3 linked regions of the Homo sapiens genome follow. The protein of the gene in region 1 purifies or fractionates together with the protein of each later gene. This does not show direct contact. Each region holds a gene or a part of one and is shown on either strand. Other genes may lie near its edges.

What was found. The genes of interacting proteins can lie anywhere in the genome.
Region 2: the proteins of ANAPC13 (region 1) and ANAPC7 purify together in Homo sapiens (affinity purification with mass spectrometry; 4 studies listed by BioGRID and IntAct, with this or other methods). This does not show direct contact.
Region 3: the proteins of ANAPC13 (region 1) and ANAPC4 purify together in Homo sapiens (affinity purification with mass spectrometry; 10 studies listed by BioGRID and IntAct, with this or other methods). This does not show direct contact.

What each region holds. Positions count from the first base shown.
Region 1 is NC_000003.12:134,477,187-134,482,995, forward strand, and holds the end of ANAPC13 (anaphase-promoting complex subunit 13), read right to left. Parts: intron 5,746-5,809; 5' UTR 5,719-5,745; coding exon 5,620-5,718; intron 1,530-5,619; coding exon 1,404-1,529; 3' UTR 520-1,403; downstream 1-519. UniProt on the Homo sapiens protein: Component of the anaphase promoting complex/cyclosome (APC/C), a cell cycle-regulated E3 ubiquitin ligase that controls progression through mitosis and the G1 phase of the cell cycle.
Region 2 is NC_000012.12:110,372,709-110,379,737, forward strand, and holds the end of ANAPC7 (anaphase-promoting complex subunit 7), read right to left. Parts: intron 5,136-7,029; exon of another isoform or gene 4,997-5,135; intron 4,910-4,996; coding exon 4,685-4,909; intron 3,509-4,684; coding exon 3,358-3,508; coding exon of another isoform or gene 3,354-3,357; exon of another isoform or gene 2,766-3,353; intron 1,626-2,765; coding exon 1,436-1,625; 3' UTR 192-1,435; downstream 1-191. UniProt on the Homo sapiens protein: Component of the anaphase promoting complex/cyclosome (APC/C), a cell cycle-regulated E3 ubiquitin ligase that controls progression through mitosis and the G1 phase of the cell cycle.
Region 3 is NC_000004.12:25,408,234-25,415,262, reverse strand, and holds part of ANAPC4 (anaphase-promoting complex subunit 4), read right to left. Parts: intron 5,566-7,029; coding exon 5,472-5,565; intron 1,619-5,471; coding exon 1,521-1,618; intron 940-1,520; coding exon 878-939; intron 798-877; coding exon 759-797; intron 665-758; coding exon 563-664; intron 1-562. UniProt on the Homo sapiens protein: Component of the anaphase promoting complex/cyclosome (APC/C), a cell cycle-regulated E3 ubiquitin ligase that controls progression through mitosis and the G1 phase of the cell cycle.

The DNA.
Region 1 (5,809 bases):
CCAACAGCTGTCTTACAGATATCATATTCTGGTTCAGCAGAAATCAAGAATAGCTTTCATATTTTACTGGTCTACTAATATTCCAGGGAAAGGCTAGGCAGGATTCACATGAACATTTGTCAAGTTCTTAGATGTTAGTGTCTCAGAGATTACATACCACAAGTAAGCTGTAAAATCCTCATTTAACAAGAATGTGAAAGAACTGTGGCGTTCTAGGTATTTTAATTTTTTGAAAAGCTTTTTCTCTTGTATAAGTTTTTTTAATATTGTAAGTCTCTTTTCTATTAGGTTGTCTTTCTTTGCTTACTGAAGGGACTGGTGCCTTGGGGTCTTTATTCTGAAGATAAAAGATTTCTAGGCAGAACTACTGATGCAAAGAGAAGAAATCAGCCTGGATGTATCTGGATTATAGGATAGCTGCTAAAATCATGTTTGTGATTGAAAACCTAAAATAAGCTAATTTGTTTTTTCATGTACCTCTTCCTCCTAAAAGCTAAGTAAACAAAAAGACCCAGCATAAAAAGGATGAGAAGAGATTTTAGTTATTCAGTGTTTTCAGAGTTTCAACAAGGGATACAGATACAAGCAGCTTCTTACAGAGTTTACAATCTGGGGAGAGAACATGAAAGACACTGTTTAACAGGCAAATAATTCCAGGAATAAATATACATGAATGTGTTTTTCAAAATACAGGTTCTTATACAAATGTATAACTAAATACTGATTCCATAGTGGGGTGGTTGTAACTGAAAGGGCTTTGAGAAAAGGCTTTGAATAAAACTAGTCATCCACCTAGCCAAAGATCCTTTCCAGCAGCACAAAAGGAATTTGTAAGGAGAACAGAGATTAACTGTCAGATATCTTTCTAATCTGTAAATTTATCCAAAGTTTGAAAATACCATGAAGAATCTTAGGAATGCCAGTAACCAGGGAATGGGATATTTGCATATCACAACATCTACAGGCTAAATACACTCCGAATGCTTCTCAATGTGGGGAAGTATGAGAAGTTAATAATTCTCCTAGTGTCTGGCTTCCTTTTTCTTTGCCTTTCCCTCTCATACGTTCAATCACCTGTGTTACAGGACACACATAAGTAGTTGGAAGGTGTTAAACTTTGACAGCAAAGCAAAATCAGAGGTAGAGGCAAATGTTTAACCAATCATGTTCAAATATAAGCTACTCAATGAAGAGTTTTAGGTTTAAAGAGCGAAATATTCACCATTACTGAGAAATCTCAGTTTCTCATTCAATTTCGCATTGCACTTTGCTACCACAAACTAAATGGGTGTACATTTTTGAGTGCTGATTTATTACTCAAAGGTTTGAATTTGGAGACTGAAACAAACCATGCTTTATCTGTGTACTTTGAGAAAATCCATCCACAAGAAAGGAGCCAAGCGTCAGTTTCCAATGGGGGGAACATTCTCATGGAGGTACTGTAAGGCTAAGTCTGTCCACTTCATTTCTTGTTCTTTGACAGATTCTGTGGTGCCACCATTGTCTTGTTCAGGTTCAGGAAGCTCATTCTGAAAAGGTACAATAGAAATTCAGAACAGTAATATATTCTGCATCTTCTTGGAACTCAAGAACACTTAGAATTAAAGCTTGTGAGTTCCTAGGAACAGGCAACATAATTGATATGTGTATTCTAAAAAAGCTAAAATCATACACGTGAGGAAACTATCAGAAGTATCATTCAAACATGGCCCGGGCCTTCTTCAGTAGGGAATGATGGGCATTTTGACTCTGACATTTGTGAAGGAGGCACTGTGGCAGAAAGGTTAAGGGCAGAGGCTTTTGGAAGCCAACTAGGATCCAAGACCACAACTCTCCCATTTGCTGGGTTACTTGGGCAAGGTATGCAAACCCTTGGGGCCTTTGTTTCTTCCTTGGCAAATGGGAGAACAAAAGAGCCATCACCTCACAGGACTACTGTAAGGATTAGGTGAGGTAATTCAGATCAAGTGCTGAGCACTCTGTGGGGTATCCAGTGCTCAAGGAATATTTGCTATTATTATTAGCGGCTAGGAACACTGAGATGAGTGAATCCTAAATCTTCTTTAGCGGGAGCGTGCTTTAAAAGAATACTAGTTTGCTGGCATATTCCTTAGACACAAGAAATGTATCCAAAAAATTATCTTGGACCCAACATGTCTTTTTTTTTTGAGATGGAGTTTTGCTTTTGTTGCCCAGGTTAGAGAGCAATGGCGTGATCTCGGCTCACCACAACCTCTGCCTCCCGGGTTCAAGCGATTCTCCCGCCTCAGCCTCCCGAGTAGCTGGGATTACAGGCATGCACCACCATGCCCGGCTAATTTTGTATTTTTTTATTTTTTTTTAGTAGAGATGGGGTTTCTCTATGTTGGTCAGGCTGGTCTCGAACTCCCAACCTCAGGTGATCCACCCGCCTCAGCCTCCCAAAGTGCTGGGATTACAGGCGCGAGCCACCGCGCCTGGCCCAACATGTCTATATTATAATAAAAATGGAGGTAGGGCAGGAAACACTGAAAATGTAATTAATAGATAAGACCTCCCTCTAGTGGTGGAGCAGAGCAACAAAAAACACAACAAATGACCAATTCACACCCTACCAGCAATTTTCTTAAAATGGTAAGTCATGGGCCACACTTACTGTAGGATCTGGGATCATTTACTTGTATTTTAAGTTTAAATGTATTACTACTGAAACTCTGCTTTGTACCAGAGTTCACAGATACCAATATATTTCTTTTCAATTATCTGTGTTTTGTTTTATGGTTAGCAAACTGTTATGCGATATCCAGACTTAAAATTTTCCACTGGATTCTAATTTGTAGTATGTGAATATGTTTTCCCCTCTAAAATTATGCTCAATATATATTAAATGATATTTACTTATCTATATTTGAATCACATACATCTTGTTCTACAAGACAGATTCAAACATACTTGAACAGATTGAGAAGAGCTATCATTTATTGTAACGCAATAATATATTATCTTAAACTTAAAAAGAAAGTTCAGTCCTAATAATTACTTATAGATGACAAAGAATAAATAGGTCCTTGGTTAATGAATTCTTTAATTCAGAAGCAGACAACGTTGCTTAATTTCATCCTATCTGTGGTATGCTTTCTAAAATAATGTGTCTTTCATTTGGTATCTACTGTCCCTTGCAATACATGCCAACACATAAAATGGCATATATGCCTGGAAAACAAAAACAAAAGTATCATAAACCCAGCCACCCATTATGGTGTACTGTAAAATGCCCTTAGTTCTTTGCAGCTACTCTTATCAAAAGGTGAAACTGATTTCCCCAATCTTGGATTTGGACTGGCCCTGTGAGTTGTTTTGGCCAACAGAATGAAGCTGTCATGCCAGTGGGCCAGTTCTTGGCCTAAGCTCCAAGAAGCTCTGCCGTTTCCTCTCAGGTTGCTCTTGGAACCCTGAGATTGAGAAGTCTGGGCTAGCCTGCTGGATACCAGAGACCATGGCATAGTCACCCCATCACCCAGCAGACAGCTTGTTAACTGCCAGACATGTGAGACAGTCCTAGATTACCCAGCCTCCAGAGTCTGTTGGCTGACTGCACAACACAGGCAAGCCTGGCAGGGATCAGCTGAGCTGGTGCAGACTAGAAGTCCCTCCCAGCTGAGCTACAAAATCATGAAATAAACAGTTGCTCTTTTAAGTCACTAAGCTTTGGGGTGACTTGTTATGCAGCAAAACCTAACTGGCATACACATTGCCTTAGAATCGCAAGACAAGCGAAAGGTGTGGATTAGCAGCAGGGCCAAGCCAACTTCGCCTGGAAGTCAGCAGGGAAACCTCCTTCCACCCCTGCCACCCAAATGTTCTCCAATCTGAGCCATAAACTTCTCCAGAAATGGACGTCTCCTTTATTTTCTTGACTTTGTTTAGGCCCTCCTCCCTTGCCTAGACCACAACAGCTTGCCAATTGGTCTCACTTGCCCCTATCTCCATGTCACACCATCTCTAACAATGCTGGCTAAACTGATTTTCCAAAAGCCAAATCTGAGCATAGCAGTCTTGCTTTTAAGACCATTCATTCCTGGATCTCCTGAGGATGAGGTCTAAGTGTGATATCAAATACCACTCTCAATCTGATCCAAGCCCAACTTTTCAGCCTACTTATGTGACAAATGTATTCTTCATCCACAGTGAATGACTCACCATGTCCCAAAGCCTTTCAAAACTCTGGGCCTTTACACATCTGTCCCCTCTGCTGCAATACCCTTGTCTACCTCCACTAAACTTCTGGTCCTTCCTTATGACCCAGCTTAAACATGACATTCTCTCAGAAGCCTTTCTGATGCCCACCAGGCAATCAGCCACTTCGTATATGATGTGGCTGTTTATGCCCCCACCTAGAATATTTATTATCACAATTACTTATCTATAAGTGTTGCCTTTCTAGACCCCTCAGGAGGAGGAACTGTATCTTATGTTCACATAGTCTTATGGCACACAGTAGGCTTCAAAAAATGCTTGTCAAATGAATGAATGAACAGAAGTTCACAAGACAGGATTTGGAACTTCACAGACCTAGGTATATGTTATATGAAGCCCTACTTACCTGCTACCAGACTTTGGGCAAGTTGCCCTTTCTGATCCTATTCTTTTCCTATAAAATGGGAATAACAGCACCTCCCTCACAGGGTTGTTTAAGAATTAGAGATAATGTATATTTCCAACCTCAGTCCATGGCATAAAACTGGTATTCAATAAATGACATCTATAATTCTTATTATGCTCTCTCTTTTGACTATTTTCCTAAGCTTGAACTAAGCTATGACTTATTTGATATGTATATTATTCATTGAACATATTACTATCTCTTATTCGTAAATGAAAATACAGATGAACTATTTTATTTCTTTGCAAACAGCAACAGCAGATATTCTAACTATAAATTATATTTTATTCAATACTAACTACTCTTCTCAGGGCAGCTGGCATGCTTTAAAGAAAAACAGTCCTGTTTTCCCTTTTTTAGGCCTCTATGACATAAATAGGATTTTAAACAAACATTTATATAAGCAAAACTTTTGGATCACTTATTACATGAGGTTTAACAAACTCCCTGCAGCAGAGTTTTCCAAAGATGGGGAAGAAAAGAGTATTCCAGAAGGCCACTGGCCTAAACGCAAAAGAATACCCAGGTATCTTCTGAATATTTTCCAGGGAACCTAAGATAGGTGTATGCTCCAAGAATGTAAGTTTCTAAAAATGCTGAAAGACTGATGAGCCACAGGCAGGGAAGTAAGAAACAGAGCTCATATGCTGCTGCTTCTTGTTCTTCCCCATCTTGCGCATTAAACTCTCATTATTTGGTTTCTCTGGTTTTCGTGTGGTGGACAGAACATGGCTCAGAAAATCGGGGCTCTAGTCCTGGCATGACTCCTAACTGACCTGGCCATGTTAGCTCCCTGAACCACATTTTTCTTCAAATAAAACATACAACTGGATGCTCTCCAGAAGCTTCTAGAGTTAGAGAATTCCACAGCTTTGATTTCTTTGCCACACTAGTTTATCTTCCATTGATATCCCTCCTCCACTAGTTACTGCCAGATCAATACCTTTAACCCATCCTCAGCTCAAATCATAACCTACCAGTGGTATTGCGACATCCTCATAAGGCAGCTTGTCTTCTCGCCAAGCATCATCAATCAAATCCAAGATCCTTCCATCTCTCTGAACCTCACTGTCCATTTTCCTGCAGCTTTGATCTTGTCAAATCTGTAAGCCAAAGAGGTTATTTCTTAAACACGAAGACTGAAGAGATGGTATAATCCACTATTAG
Region 2 (7,029 bases), on another chromosome or scaffold:
CAGAGCGGGGGTTTCACCATGTTGGCCAGGCTGGTCTCAAACTCCTGGCCTCAAGTGATCCACCCGCCTCGGCCTCCCAAAGTGCTGTGATTACAGGTGTGAGCACGCCTAGCCTTATATGTCTCTTTAGAAGTGGCTCAGATCAAGTGATGTTGCGCAGGCTTTGGGTCTTAGACTGAAAGACTCATAGAAACTTTTTGCCCATTTTAAATTGCAGTTATCAGATGTTCTGAGCTCATTAACTACTGTACACTTACAGTTTTTACATTTTAGGATACGACTTTCTACTGACATCAAATTTATATTTTGCAGCACCTTGGACTAATTTTTGAATTTGGGATTAGCTGTGACACCCACCCCTCACCTCCGATTAATTGTATACTCAGAGCCATCGCAACTTAAGGCACAAGGGAGAGGGTGTGGGAAGAAACTCCCAGCCCCAGAGCTCAGGGTGTGATACTCAGGCTGACCAGTGACAGACTGCTGGAACCAGACCCCAATCTCACAGCTGCAGCAAAAGAGCCAGGCAGACGCAGCTGAAATCTGGCCAAAGACTCTCAGGCTCCAGGGAAATTAACCTACCCAATATGCAAACAGATGAACCAGCTCAGGGTTCCTGAGCTTTCCAACCCTCCTGGCTCCCAACACCAGGGGAAGAAAGTCTATTTCTGGCAAATAATTCTGGGGCTGAATCAATGCATTGCGAATAAGACAAAAATACTAAGAGTCTATTTTGAAAAGGGCTTCCATTCTGATCACCCCAACACCATGACTGTACAAACCAGTTTTATTAGGGAACTGCCCCAGGTGCACCTCTGGTTCATGCTCTTGTCACACCTGTTTCTCAGATCAGCCCAGGCTCAGAGGCAAGTTACTAGCTAAGCAAAGAGGAAAACTGTTCTGCAAAATAGCAACTGTCAGCTTAAGGCATTACTAACATTGCAGAAGGAAGCAAGATTTACTAGGGACATCTGGATAGCCCAGGACAATGACTTCTGGGAACAGGAAGCTCCCTAGGGCCAGATCGTGCTGCCATCCAACTTGGGAGATGACATTATCGTGCTGGGATGGTGGGTAACTCCTTCAAACCAATCCATGTCACAGAACACTGTCTATTCCTTGAGCTTTTGGATTTAGAAATTAGTTATATAAAAAGTACTCTTGGCCCAGAAGCCCCAACATGTGCGTGGGTCTCGGGGCACTCCCTCAGTCCTCCCTGGCTGGAGCAGGGGAGGATGGAGATACATGGAAGGTTGGTCAGGCTCTGTTTTAGAAATGAAGTCACGACTAGGAATTGGGAGCGAGGGGGCAGAGACCCCTGCTGCAATCACATGCTGAATCATTGTCCTTCTGAGAGCAGGCTCCTACGGTTCCTTCAGTCCACGGAAGTGCTCAGAGCAGGGCAGGCCACTGCGGCCATGGAGCTGCCGCCCCCTCACTGCATGCCGAACCACTGCTCCTGGTCAGCCCACTGGGCCGCCTCACTGTCGCTGCCCTCCAGGTCCCCTTCTTCCCCACTCCCTTCCATGTCGTCCACATCCTCCTCCTGAGTGGCATCCGTGGGACTCTCCTCCTTCTCCATCTTCTGCATCCCCTCTAGAGACTTCTGGTCATTGGGGTCCAAACTAGGGGACAACAAAACAAAGGAGAGGCCTGAATCTCTGCCTTGCTCTTGCTGGCTGATTCGTCATCTCCCTGGCCCGGCAGTGAAATGACCACACAGTCCCAAAAAATGTGCTAAAGCCTGGCCTCTCCAAACAACTCAGGCTTCCAAGGCTGGGTTGAGGGAGTCCACCACCAGAAGTGCAAAAAGGAGTCTCTTCCTAATTTTTAGAGTTCTCAATTTGAGTTTTTCTCCACAAATTTCTTAAACTTTTTCATACCTATTACCCCTAGCATTCTGCTAGAGGCGGCTACCAGATAACACAAATGAAAAAGTGGCAAACAAACATTACCAGGTAAATTCAAATGGAATTCCCAGAAAGTTGGGTTTTAGAGCTACAGGGTTACAAAAAATAGGAATTTCTCTGAGTATAGGTGTCCCATGTTCTTATGATGTAATTAAACATAGCAGCATTTCAGGAGCCAACCAAAAACATCACGCTGTACCATGGAACAGACTTGTAAACACCTAGGTCAGACCCCAGGACCCAAGGCTACCCCTACCCAAGCATTCACATTTAGCAGCTGAGTGTCAGTACATACGCCACCCCCACCCCCAAAGTTCAGAGCCTCTAGAACATTCATTTATTTGCCTCCTAAGCAATCTTTCCTCTTGCCTTAGTGACCATCACCCAAGCCAGCAGGCGTCCCACGCCTAGCAAACCCCACCTCTAATGGAAGTCTGATATTTTATTTTCTCACTTGCTTCTGAGATTCTAAAAAGCAGCTAAAACCCATGTTGGCACCGTTTCTACCGATATAAATGCGGACCGATCTGTAACATCTCCTCGTCTCCTGGTTGAAGCCTTCCACATCCTGTACTCTGAAGCTCTCACCCATACCCAGGGCTCCTGCCCTCTGGACTCCCACCTTCCCTTCTACAGACTACTATGAAAGCCCTTAGCACATGGCATGGCCAGTCTGCATGTCTGAGACTGACAGCTCCCGAAACATAGCATCTCCAGTTGTCACTGAGATGCTAGGCACACAAGTGGTGCTCAACTGTGTGCTGAACAATTGAATGTGATCAGACTCTATTAAAGACAGCCCTTCACCATAACCTTACAGACACACAGACAACCCTCAAAGAAACCACTTCTGTATTAAACAGTAAGAATACCACTATTTATTTAGCATTTACTATGTACCAGGCACAGGGCTAAGAGCTTTACATGAAATAATCATTTAACCCTCATTCGATCATTTAATATCTAATAAGGTAGCTAGATATAGACAAGGAAATGTGTTAGTAACTTGCCCAAGATCACAGGTGGTGAAGGTAGTATTCAAAACTTCAGACCTCAAGTTCTTAATGACTACAGTAGATAGAAACATGGGAAAGTACTTACAATACTTTGATTTGAAAAAGAAGAATATAAAATATATACTAGGTACAGCCCTATAAAAATATGTGTGTGTGGGCAAGGACAGAAGATGAGCTATACAAATGAACACAGATGTTATAGTGGTGTGGGATGGTTATGAGTGAAACAGTTCTCTAATGTTGTTAATATATTTTAAGAAAAAATTTTTAGAAGTCATGAATTCACAAATAACTCTTCTACCATTACTATTATTATTCTGCTTTCAACCATGGACACAAAGTGTGTGTGTGTTTCCATAACTCCTGTGACACAGCTCACTGCCTCCTCTACCCTCCTCAGTGGCCTTCCCCCAAGGGAGGCTAGTGCCTACCTTAGTGCTATACTATACTGGTCCATTGCCTCCTGATACTCATTGACAGCTACAAGGAAATCTCCTAGGATCCGATGCAGGACACAGTCACTCTGATTAGCCAGTGCGTTCCTCAGCAAAGCAATTCCATCTTCATATTTCTGTTCTCTGCCTGGGGGAATAAAAAAGACCCTCACTTAAGTCATGTACAAAAAAACCACAACTACCATTCTGACCATCTCTTTGCAGACATCCTCAAGAGAACACTGGTGCAACACAAAGCGAGGGCAAGCACACCTGAAGCCCTATTCAGTTAAGAAATTTTCCATCCTGGCTAACACAGTGAAACCCCGTCTCTACTAAAAATACAAAAAATTAGCCGGGCTTGGTGGCAGGTGCCTGTAGTCCCAGCTACTCGGGAGGCTGAGGCAGGTGAATGGCCTGAACCCAGGAGGCGGAGCTTGCAGTGAGCCGTGATTGTGCCACTACACTCCAGTCTGGGCAACAGAGCGAGACTCCATCTCAAAAAAAAAAAAAAAAAAGAAATTTGCAGTTTGAATTATAATGTTTTAAATGGGCTCTTAACTTTAAAAAGCCAAACTGCTTTGCCAACTAGCCCAAATTCAATGAACCAAATTATGAGTTTATCATAAATCAGGACTGAAAAAAAAAAAAAAGGGCCAAACGGGAAGTCATAAAATCATCCAGATAGCTCCACTCAAAATGGCTAAAATCAGTTAGTTATATTCAGCTCCAACTAATTCAGGACAACTCAAACCAGATAACAGTGAGCCGAGGCTGGGCACGGTGGCTCACACCTATAATCCCACCACTTTGGGAGGCCGAGGCGGGTGGATCACAAGGTCAGGATTTCGAAACCGGCCTGGCCAATATGGTGAAACCCCATCTCTACTATAAAAAAAAATAATAAAAAATAAAAAAATTAGCTGGGCATGGTGGTGCACGCCTGTAGTCCCAGCTACTCAGGAGGCTGAGGCAGAAGAATTGCTTGAACCCGGGAGGCGGAGGTTGCAGTGAGCTGAGATCGCACCACTGCACTCCAGCCTGGGTGACAGAGCAAGATGCCGTCTCAAAAAAAAAAAAAAAAAAAAAATTAGTGAGCCGAATAGATACCAACCAATTATAGGTGGTTGGAACCAAGCCAAGCAGATCTAAGCCAGCTACGTTTGGTTGGGCTAAATATAAACCAATCCAAGCAGGCTCAGACCTGCTGCAAAAGGCACACACCTGTCTAGTCATCTGTAACTAGCTGGGACAAGGGGCTCCAACTGAGGTCAGGTTTTATAAAAATTAATGATGAACAGGACAGAAAATAAGACACACTTACTAAGTAGTTCTGCTTTTTTCACCACAGCCTTAATGTAATCTGGCCTTTGGGTCAGGGCTTTATCTAATAATGTTTTGGCTTTCTCCTGTGTCACTGGGTCTTCAAGACAAACGGTGGCTAAAAGGGTAAGGGTCTGTGCATTTGCTCCCAGAGTTTTGTAAACGTTGTTAGCCATTACCATTGCTTCTCGAATACTGTTGGAGGCTAAGTAACATTCGATAAGACCTGAAAAAAGTAAAACACGTGAAGACATTCAATGCCATTACCATTCCAACCCATGCTTCCACTCTGACAGCTCTCCAAATTGCTAACCTTCAAAGTTTCAGACAAAGGGCAGGCCACGGGAAACTGATGGTGAGATTAGACTGGCAAGAGTGTTGATGGAATAGCTAAGAAGTGCTCTTCCCCAGAGAACTTGATGGATGTAGAAAAAGACTGCCTTCAAAGGCACCTTCAGTTTAGGGAAGGAAACAAGCACATGTAAGGAACCTGCAGCATGTGAGCACCCCATCTGACCACTGGAAGAATAAATGCGACACTAATGATTAGTCTGTCATATGGCCAAGAGATCAAAGTAGTGAGAGATGATGTTCCCAACAAAACCCAAGGTTTTGCTGCCTCTTAACAAGCAGTTATTCTCCAGCTGCATTCGGTCACCTGTAGGGCTAGGTTTAAGATGGAAGACTCCTAGGGTCTTTATTTTATTATTTATTTTTTTTGCGACAGAGTTTCACTCTCGTTGCCCAGGCTGGAGCGCAATGGCGCCATCTCGGCTCACTGCAATCTCCGCCTCCCGGGTTCAAGCGATTCTCCTCCCTCAGCCTCCCGAGTAGCTGGGATTACAAGCATGCACCACCACACCCGGCTAGTTTTGTATTTTTAGTAGAGACGGGGTTTCTCCATGTTGGTCAGGCTGCTCTCGAACTCCTGACCTCAGGTGATCCGCCCAGCTCAGCCTCCCAAAGTATTAGGATTACAGGCGTAAGCCACCGTGCCTGGCCTGGCTCCTAGAGTCTTAAAGTGAATTTACAGTTTGACAAATAAAGGACTTATTGTCAAGCAACTTAGGGAGAAAGACTCTTTTATTTGAAACGTAACAGCTGTCTCAAAAGGCACTTGCTGAGGGCTTCCCTAAACGAGATGAACAGTACTTACCACATGCACCAAACAGACTGCAACTGGCAGCCCTTGCCTCTTTCCACACCCACAGCGAGACGCCCTATGAGGAGGCCACCTTGAGAAGAGTCAACTCTCAACTCTTCATGCCAGTAAGTTGAGGAGAACAGAGGAATAACTTTTTGGCACAAAGTGCTCATCAAAACAAAAAAACAGCTTAAAACCCCAAACCCACACAATCCTTGGCAGATTTTCTCTGCATACTCCTCCACCCTAGCAGCATTTATAACATTCATGCACACCCTTCCACACACTATGGTTACTTAACCAGAAATTACCTAACTCTAACTATTTTTTTTTTTTTTTTTGAAATGGAGTCTTGCTCTGTCACCCAGGCTGGAGGGCAGTGGTGACATCTCGGCTCACTGCAACCCATGTCTCCTGGGTTCAAGCAATTCTCCTGCCTCAGCCTCCCAAGTAGCTGGGACTACAGGCGTGCACCACCATGCCTGGCTAAATTTGTTTCTATTTTTAGTAGAGATGGTAGTTCACCATGTTGGCTAGGCTGGTCTCGAACTCCTGACGTCAGGTGTTCCACCCGCCTCAGCCTCCCAAAGTGCTAGGACTACAGGCATGAGCCACCATACCCAGCCAATTACCTAACTCTTAAGGGCAACATGTTGGATTCCACATACAGTTGTTTGCAATTACTTACTGAATAGTTTTACTTCCCTGCTAAAGCCCTACTGGAACTTCAGAAAAAAACAGAATGCACTTGCCTAACCTAAATCTCTACCAGCAAAAGAAGGAAGCTCCAACTGGAAACTGTAAGAAATATCAAAGGGTGTAGTCAGAGTTGCCCTGACCTAAATCTCCAAATGGCAGCTTAAGAAGCCTCACTGGCCAACTGGGAAACATCCGCTGTCCAAATATTATAGGACGGACTATTCAACCGCATCCCTGAGCTCTGGTGAAATAGGCATGCAGTATAATGGAATTAACATGATTAACAGCAGCTGGGAAGACAGGGAAGTTACAGTTTCAGGATCAAGAAGTTAATCTGAAATCAATGGTTGGTTTGCTAGAGCTTCTTTCAGAACAAAGACAATACTCTTTCCCCCTCAACAAATCCAGAGGCATAGCTCTCTGGCTATATAAGCAGATTTGTTCTCTTTCCCAACATCCAAATTTTATTTCTCAAATTTGAACTCATCTTCCTGTTAAGAGCA
Region 3 (7,029 bases), on another chromosome or scaffold:
AATTATTTCTTTTTGGTTACATCGTGGTCTCAACATTTTCTTCAAATTCAGGTTTAAAACCATTTTTAAGCTACCAATGGCGTTCTAAATATGATTTATTTTTCAGAACTTCTACTTTCAATTTCAAAGTAAGTCTCTGTTAGGCAAGGCCTCTTGTTTAATGAAAAGCATACTTAACCCTAGGCAAAAATCATTTCTATAAGGCAGCCACTTTTAGAAGTTTTTAACTTCTAAAAAGTTAAAACTTCTTTAACTTTTAGTTTTTCGGAAGTTTTTAACTTCTAAAAAATGAAGTATAATATCCTGAGCTGTCATATTTTTCCTAACTCTAAAAAAAGTCCTACAATGATTATATGCCAATAAAAATTAAATAATCTAAAACAAGATCATATAACTTCCTAATTCAGTGTTACCCTTTTAATGACATGAAAACTAACAATTAAATGACACATCTAAAAGTCACAAAGTAGTTTAAAATCTGAAATGCTGGAAGGCTGTATGCTTCATTCTTACAAATAATAAAATCTTATCTCTTTGATTCAAACTTCAGATTAATACTTACTGAGAAATATCAGTATGTCTCCTTAAGATGCACATTTTATAAAGTGAATCTTCTAGAATAGTAAAAAGAAGATAATGTAGATTTGAAGTTTTATTATTCCACCTAAGAAAAAAAATTGTCATAATATTTTTTAACTATTGATGGATAAAACAAAATTGTATTGTTCACTCAAGATAGGGAAGAAATATATACTTACAGAAAAGGAAATTTGAACAATCTACGTGTAGAATCCTCACTAAAATAAAAGGGAAAAAGAAATGAGAAAAATTTAAATTGGCTGCGGAATTACACCATCCAATAGGTAAACAGAATTACCTTCTGGTATCTCTATACAATGGAATACAGATTGCTTGATTCATCGATTTTCCAATTACATCCTATATAAAATAAGATTTTAAAATATAATTAGAGCGTTAATATGCACACAGATACTCTACAGAAAGTGACTGACCATCACTGTTCGAATGTGGTAAAAAAATCGCCTACATCACCAAACCTTGTACATAAGAAACGTTAATGACAATTGTAACAGTAAGGAAAAAGAGAAAATTCTGAGCTGAAAAGGACCTTGGTGCTAAGCACATGGCAGGTTTAAGACCACCTCCCTCTGGTCTCATAACAACCATTCATTCACATCCTTCAGTAGTAAGCAGAGACACATCAGCTCTGTAACTAAGACTGTTTACAATGAATTTCTTCTGGGAACAAATAAAATACTCAAGATGCCAACACCTTCAGTAATCTTTATACACACACACACACACACACACGTGTGTAAGAAACTTAAGTTGGAGTATTAGGTTGAACCATATGAAATTGTTACTTTTGTTAATCAAAAACAGTTGACTATCAACATTTTCATAGTTCATTCTAAAAATTAAGATCATTTACATAAGTGAGCCACATACTGTAGACACTATTGCTCCTACACAAAGACATGCATTTCTTTCAAACTTACTGCTGGCTTTTGCAAACACTGATCAATAATATTCTCCATCCGCCTTTTCACAAAATGCAATGATTTTCGAGGATAATAAGGAAACAGCAAAGGACTTTCTGGTTTCAAACAAAAACAGAAACAAAAATAAAAGAAGCTATAGCAAACTTATAATTAGAAGAAAATAATCTACTGTTAGAGCCAGTCTGCACAGTTTATCTCGAGGTAGAATTTTCACTGACCACTTCATTGGATTTTCACACAACCTCATTAAAAACGACCATGGTCTTCTGCCTTTCATCAACCCCCGCTGACAGCTCACTAAAAACAATCTCACTTACTACAAACTTAGACTCACCAAAATCCAACTGTAGGTTTCTGCTGGCTATAAGAAGCAAGGAATGATTTGGGAACCATCAAATATATGATGAAATAAAATTCATTCTTCTATTCTTTGCCACAGTGAAACAACAACAGCAGTCCAGTACTGTTTTTTAAGTCTCTAAAACAAGAGACTGGAAACTAGCTCTATATAAATAAGCTCTTTACTTTTTAAAAGGTTACTTTATCAGGAGAAAGTAATATATAATTTAGCACTAACACCTGCTATGCTAGGTGTTTAAAATACCTTTTTTTTTATTGCTTACAATAGCCATATGAAGTAAACACCATATTCTCCAATTTACAGATGAAAAAAAAAATGAAGCTTAACAGGTTTAGGCAATTGCCCAGTGTGAAAATAACTAAGTATCTAGTTCTGTCAATCAAACCCAAGTCTGACTCTAATGCCCACCCTCTTCCACTGTGCTTTGTAGGCCCTCCCTTAGATAAAGCCATGCTGGATAAAATGAACTACAATCACATTAACATTTTAAGTTCTCAAGGTGACAGATGCTATGTTATCACAGAAAAACATTGATCTTTGTTTCTAGTTCCTAGAACAGAGCTTCCAAAACCCTTGGAATTTCCTGAGTGATAAAGGTGACAGGAACATTTTTTTTTTTCTTTTTTTAAAGACAGAGTCTCATTCTGTTGCCCAGGTTGGAGTGCAGTGGTGCAGTCTCAGCTCATTGCAAACTCTGCCTCCCGGATTCAAGCGATTCTCCTGCCTCAGTGTCCCGAGTAACAGGACTACAGGTGCACACCACCACACCCAGCTAATTTTTAGTAGAGATAGGGTTTCACTATGTTGGTCAGGTCTCGAACTCCTGATCTCAAGTGATCCGCCCACCTCACCCTCCCAAAGTGCTAGGACTACCATCTTTTGTTTTAATGAGGCAACTCTTGGCTGGCACCTAGATAGCTTTAGGATAGGGGCTGGCCACCAAAAAGACCAAGCCTTGATTAGAAGTTTGGAAACTTCAGCTCCACCCGCCAGCCTCCAAGGAAGAGAGAGGGGCTTGGAGGTTGAGTTCAATCACCAATGGCCAATGACTTCATCAATCATGTCTACATAATGAAACCGCCAGAAATACACTGGGACAATGAGGTTCAGAGAACTTTCTGGGTGGTGAATATGTCCAGGTGCTGGGAGAGCATGGAAGCTTTGCACCTTTCTCTCCATACCCTGCCTGATATAGCACTTCTATGTGGCTGTTCCTGAGTCATATTCTTTACAACACACTGGTAAACAAAAATTATATGTTTCCCGGAGTTTTGTGAGCCATTCTAGCAAAATTATCCAACCTGAAAGGGAGGAAGGTTCTGGGAACTCTTGACCTTAACCTTATAGCCAAGTCAGACAACAAGCATGGCTACCCAAGAGATGTGGGGACCCAGAGACCTGACATTTGACGCGAGGGCAGTCTTGTGGGACTGCATCCTTATCCTGTGAGGTCTGCGCTAACTATCTGTAATTCGTGTCAGAATTGAATTGTAGGACACCCCGTTGGTGTCAAAATTGGTTGGTGTCAGGAGGAAAAAAATTTCTCTCATTTTGTTGTCAGAAACACTGAGTAAAAAGTGCTCAGACACTAACCTACAGACTGCTTCTGTGCTAAGTGCCAGGCATTAGTCTAAGTGCTTATGTAGATTAATTTATTTAATCTCCACACCAGTTTTTTGAGGGCAGCATTATTACCATCTTCATTTTACAGATGAGAAACTATGGCACAGAGAGGTTAGGCAACTTGCTCTCAGCCGTGTTACTACGAAGTAGTAGAGCAGCTTCCAACCCAGAAAATCCAGCTTTCAGAGCACCAACTTTTACCCACCACACAATACTGACCCATGTACCCTAAAGAAAGTACACAGATCAAGTATTTAGCACTTGATTTTTGCAGTGTAAGAAAACAGTTTCACTGATATTTCCTCACTAGAATTCATTATGGAACTCAATAGTGAGTTCCATTAGGTCTGTAGCTAAGATCAGGCCTTTCTTATTCAAACACGTAAGATGTGGGGCAAATAAAAGAGGACAGGACCTATTTTTAGCCTGGCAAAGTTCCCTGGATCAATAATAGCCAAAATAGCAACAGGGTCCAGGTGCCACTACTCTTGACGCACTGCCACTGACCCTCTCCAGACATCCTGCCTTATTCCCTGGGCATCCTGATTAAATACAGTAAATAAGTAGCGTCTCCTGTACCTTTATCCTCCCTCCATTCAATAGCCAACTTGCACCAATGCATCTCCTTACTGACCTCAAGACTCTCTGGCAATACATAATAGGTTCTGCCTTGAAAAAGAATTTGGACTATATGCAAAGTTCTTGGCATCAAAGAATTCTCTCCCTCATTCATTCATTCATTCATTCATTCATTCACAGAAGCAGCAACCAAATACAAGTGGCAGAAATTGCTATAGGTTGAGTTTCACTTACCCAAAATGCTTGGGTCTGTAAGTGTTTGGGATTTTTTTGGAATTTGGAATATGTGCATATACATAATGAGATATCTTGGGGATGGAACTCAAGTCTAAACACGAAATTCATTTATGCTTCATGTACATCTTATACAATATATTTAATAATTTTGTGCTTGAAACAAAGTCTTGACTGCATTTTGACTGGGACCCATCATATGAGGTCAGGTATGGAATTTTCCACTAGTGGTGTCATGTCGGTGCTCAAAAAGTTTTAGATTTTGGAGCATTTTAAGATTTCAGATTTTTGGATTAAGATGCTCAACCTGTACTGCCAGTCTAGTTAAAACCTCAGGCTTTCACATTAACAGAATCCTAGCTCCATCACTAACCAGCTTGTGTGATCCTGGGCTTCTCTAACCTTCTGTTTCCTCATTAGTAAATGGTGATACCAAGTACCTACCCATAGAATCTTGTGAGGATTAAAGCAGGTATTGTGTGTATATGGCAGACTAAGCACCCCATAAATGTTTAGTTAGACTAAGCACCCACTACCTTAAAGATCTAAGCAATTGCTAAATCTGGTCAGATTATTCTTTCAGACATCAAAGAAATACGAGCTTTAAAATATTTTCATCTAAAATGGTAAGATGTGCTGGCATATTTAATGGTTGCTATTATGTGCTGCATCCCTAATAATGCTGGATAGCTTTACGGTATTAACATTCTGACATTCTAGAAAATGAAAGGTATAACAAGTACACATGCACACACACACACACCAACTACAACCCGAGGAGAATACAGTTGAGCATCCCTGTGCTTTCAGAAGATAATAAATTGGAATTGGCAAAAAAGACTTTTCTCACTATTTGGCTCTATAGTTTCCCTCAAAATCCTATTTTTTACAGGGTGCAAAACACTTATATGAGAACACTTAGGAATAAGCAATCTTCCTACAGCGTAGTTAACTTCAGAGTGTCTTCTATCTATCATGGTGATGTCATACACTATTGGTTATTTTGCTGTTCCTATAATCAAATAAATATAAGTCTAATAAACTTAGGTAAGTGTTCAGCAAGTTTTCAGCAAAACTGTTAGCAGAACTATTCAAGACCTAGTCTTAAATAAAAACAAAAATGGCCAAAATCTGGTTGGTTCATGAAGTACCTTTAAGGTGGCTGCTATTTTGAAGAAAGTCATACCACTGGTTTCCTTCTGTGTTAGGGGGTGACACAAGATCATCATCTTCATCTTTCAAGTACTAGAAATACAGAATTAGAAATTTAAGTTTATTCATACCTGGAAGGGAAAATGGAAAAAGAAAAAAAGTAAAAGACAAAAAAAAGTTAAGTTTAGTAAATCAAAGACTTAGGGCCTAAAATCGGTTTATTTTTAACACTTTTTTAACTTAATAAGTTACTTTGTTTTATTGCCAAGTCCTCTGAAAGTGCATTACTATCATTCTAAGTGAGGTAGCCAAAATCTGCTATGTGTATGTGGCAGAATTAAGCCCTCCATAAATGTTAGCTAGCTACTATCTTAAAAATTAAAGAAACTGCTGAACAGTTGGTAGTTTGTTTAGTCAAGCAACTAAACAAACCACAAAGTATTAAAAGATTATTATGTTGTAGATGTAGAGATCACAAATCGAACTTAAATTGTGTTTCTTTTTCATGAGCATATTTTAATTTAACATATGCAAGTTATAAATTAGTTTCATAAGTATCCATTGTCAATGTACTGTCAATATACTCTATGGCAGTTGTTCTTCAAGTGAGATCCACAAGCCCCTGGGAATCCCCAAGATGCTTTTGGGGATCCACAAAGTCAATACTAGTTTTATAATAATGTAGCTGTCACCTGCCCTTTACACTATGCTAACATTTGTACTGATGGTGGGGAAAGCTGTAAGTGTCTCAGCCAAGAGTCAAGGTAGTAGTCCCAAATCATACCAGCAGTCACTGTATTCTTTTTCTGCCACATACTCATAGTTTCATTTATCTTTAATGAAGTCATTAAATTATTAACTTTATTTTCAACCCTTGAGTACGAATCTTTAATATTCTGTGTGACAGAATTGAGAGTTATACATAGGAACTTTTGCTACACAAAGTATGATGGTTATCTTGAGGAAAAGCACTTATGTTAAAAGCAAAAATAGGCTGGGCACGGTGGTTCATGCCTGTAATCCCCGCACTTTAGGAGGCCATGGCAGGCGTATCACTTGAGCCCAGGAGCTCAAGACCAGCCTGGGCAACATGGCAGGTCTCCACAAAATAAAGACAAAAATTAGCCAGGCATGGTGGTGTGTGCTTGTAGCCCCAGCTACAAGAGGCGAGTCCGAGAGGTGGAGGCTGCAGTAAGCTGTGATTGCACCACTGTACTACTCAGAGGAAATATCTTGTCTCAAAAAAAAAAAAATTTTTTTTTTTTTTGGAAAACCTGCATCTGCCCCTGTGTGCTTCACAACACAAAGACTTTTCTGATTAAATTGGTGGTGCTATTAATGAAATCTAGCTTATAGTTTGATAAAAGGTGGCGGCATTTAGAACAGCTGGATGACTCAGGGAACCAATACTTCCCAAATGACCAAAGCAGGATGTTACAAAATTATGCGTGGACAAAAGATCCGTTCAAAGTGCAAGAAGATGAATGAATTTTAATGTAAAAAACGTTCACTGATGCAATTTTAGATTCCACACTGAAACAAACCTTTAAGATACTA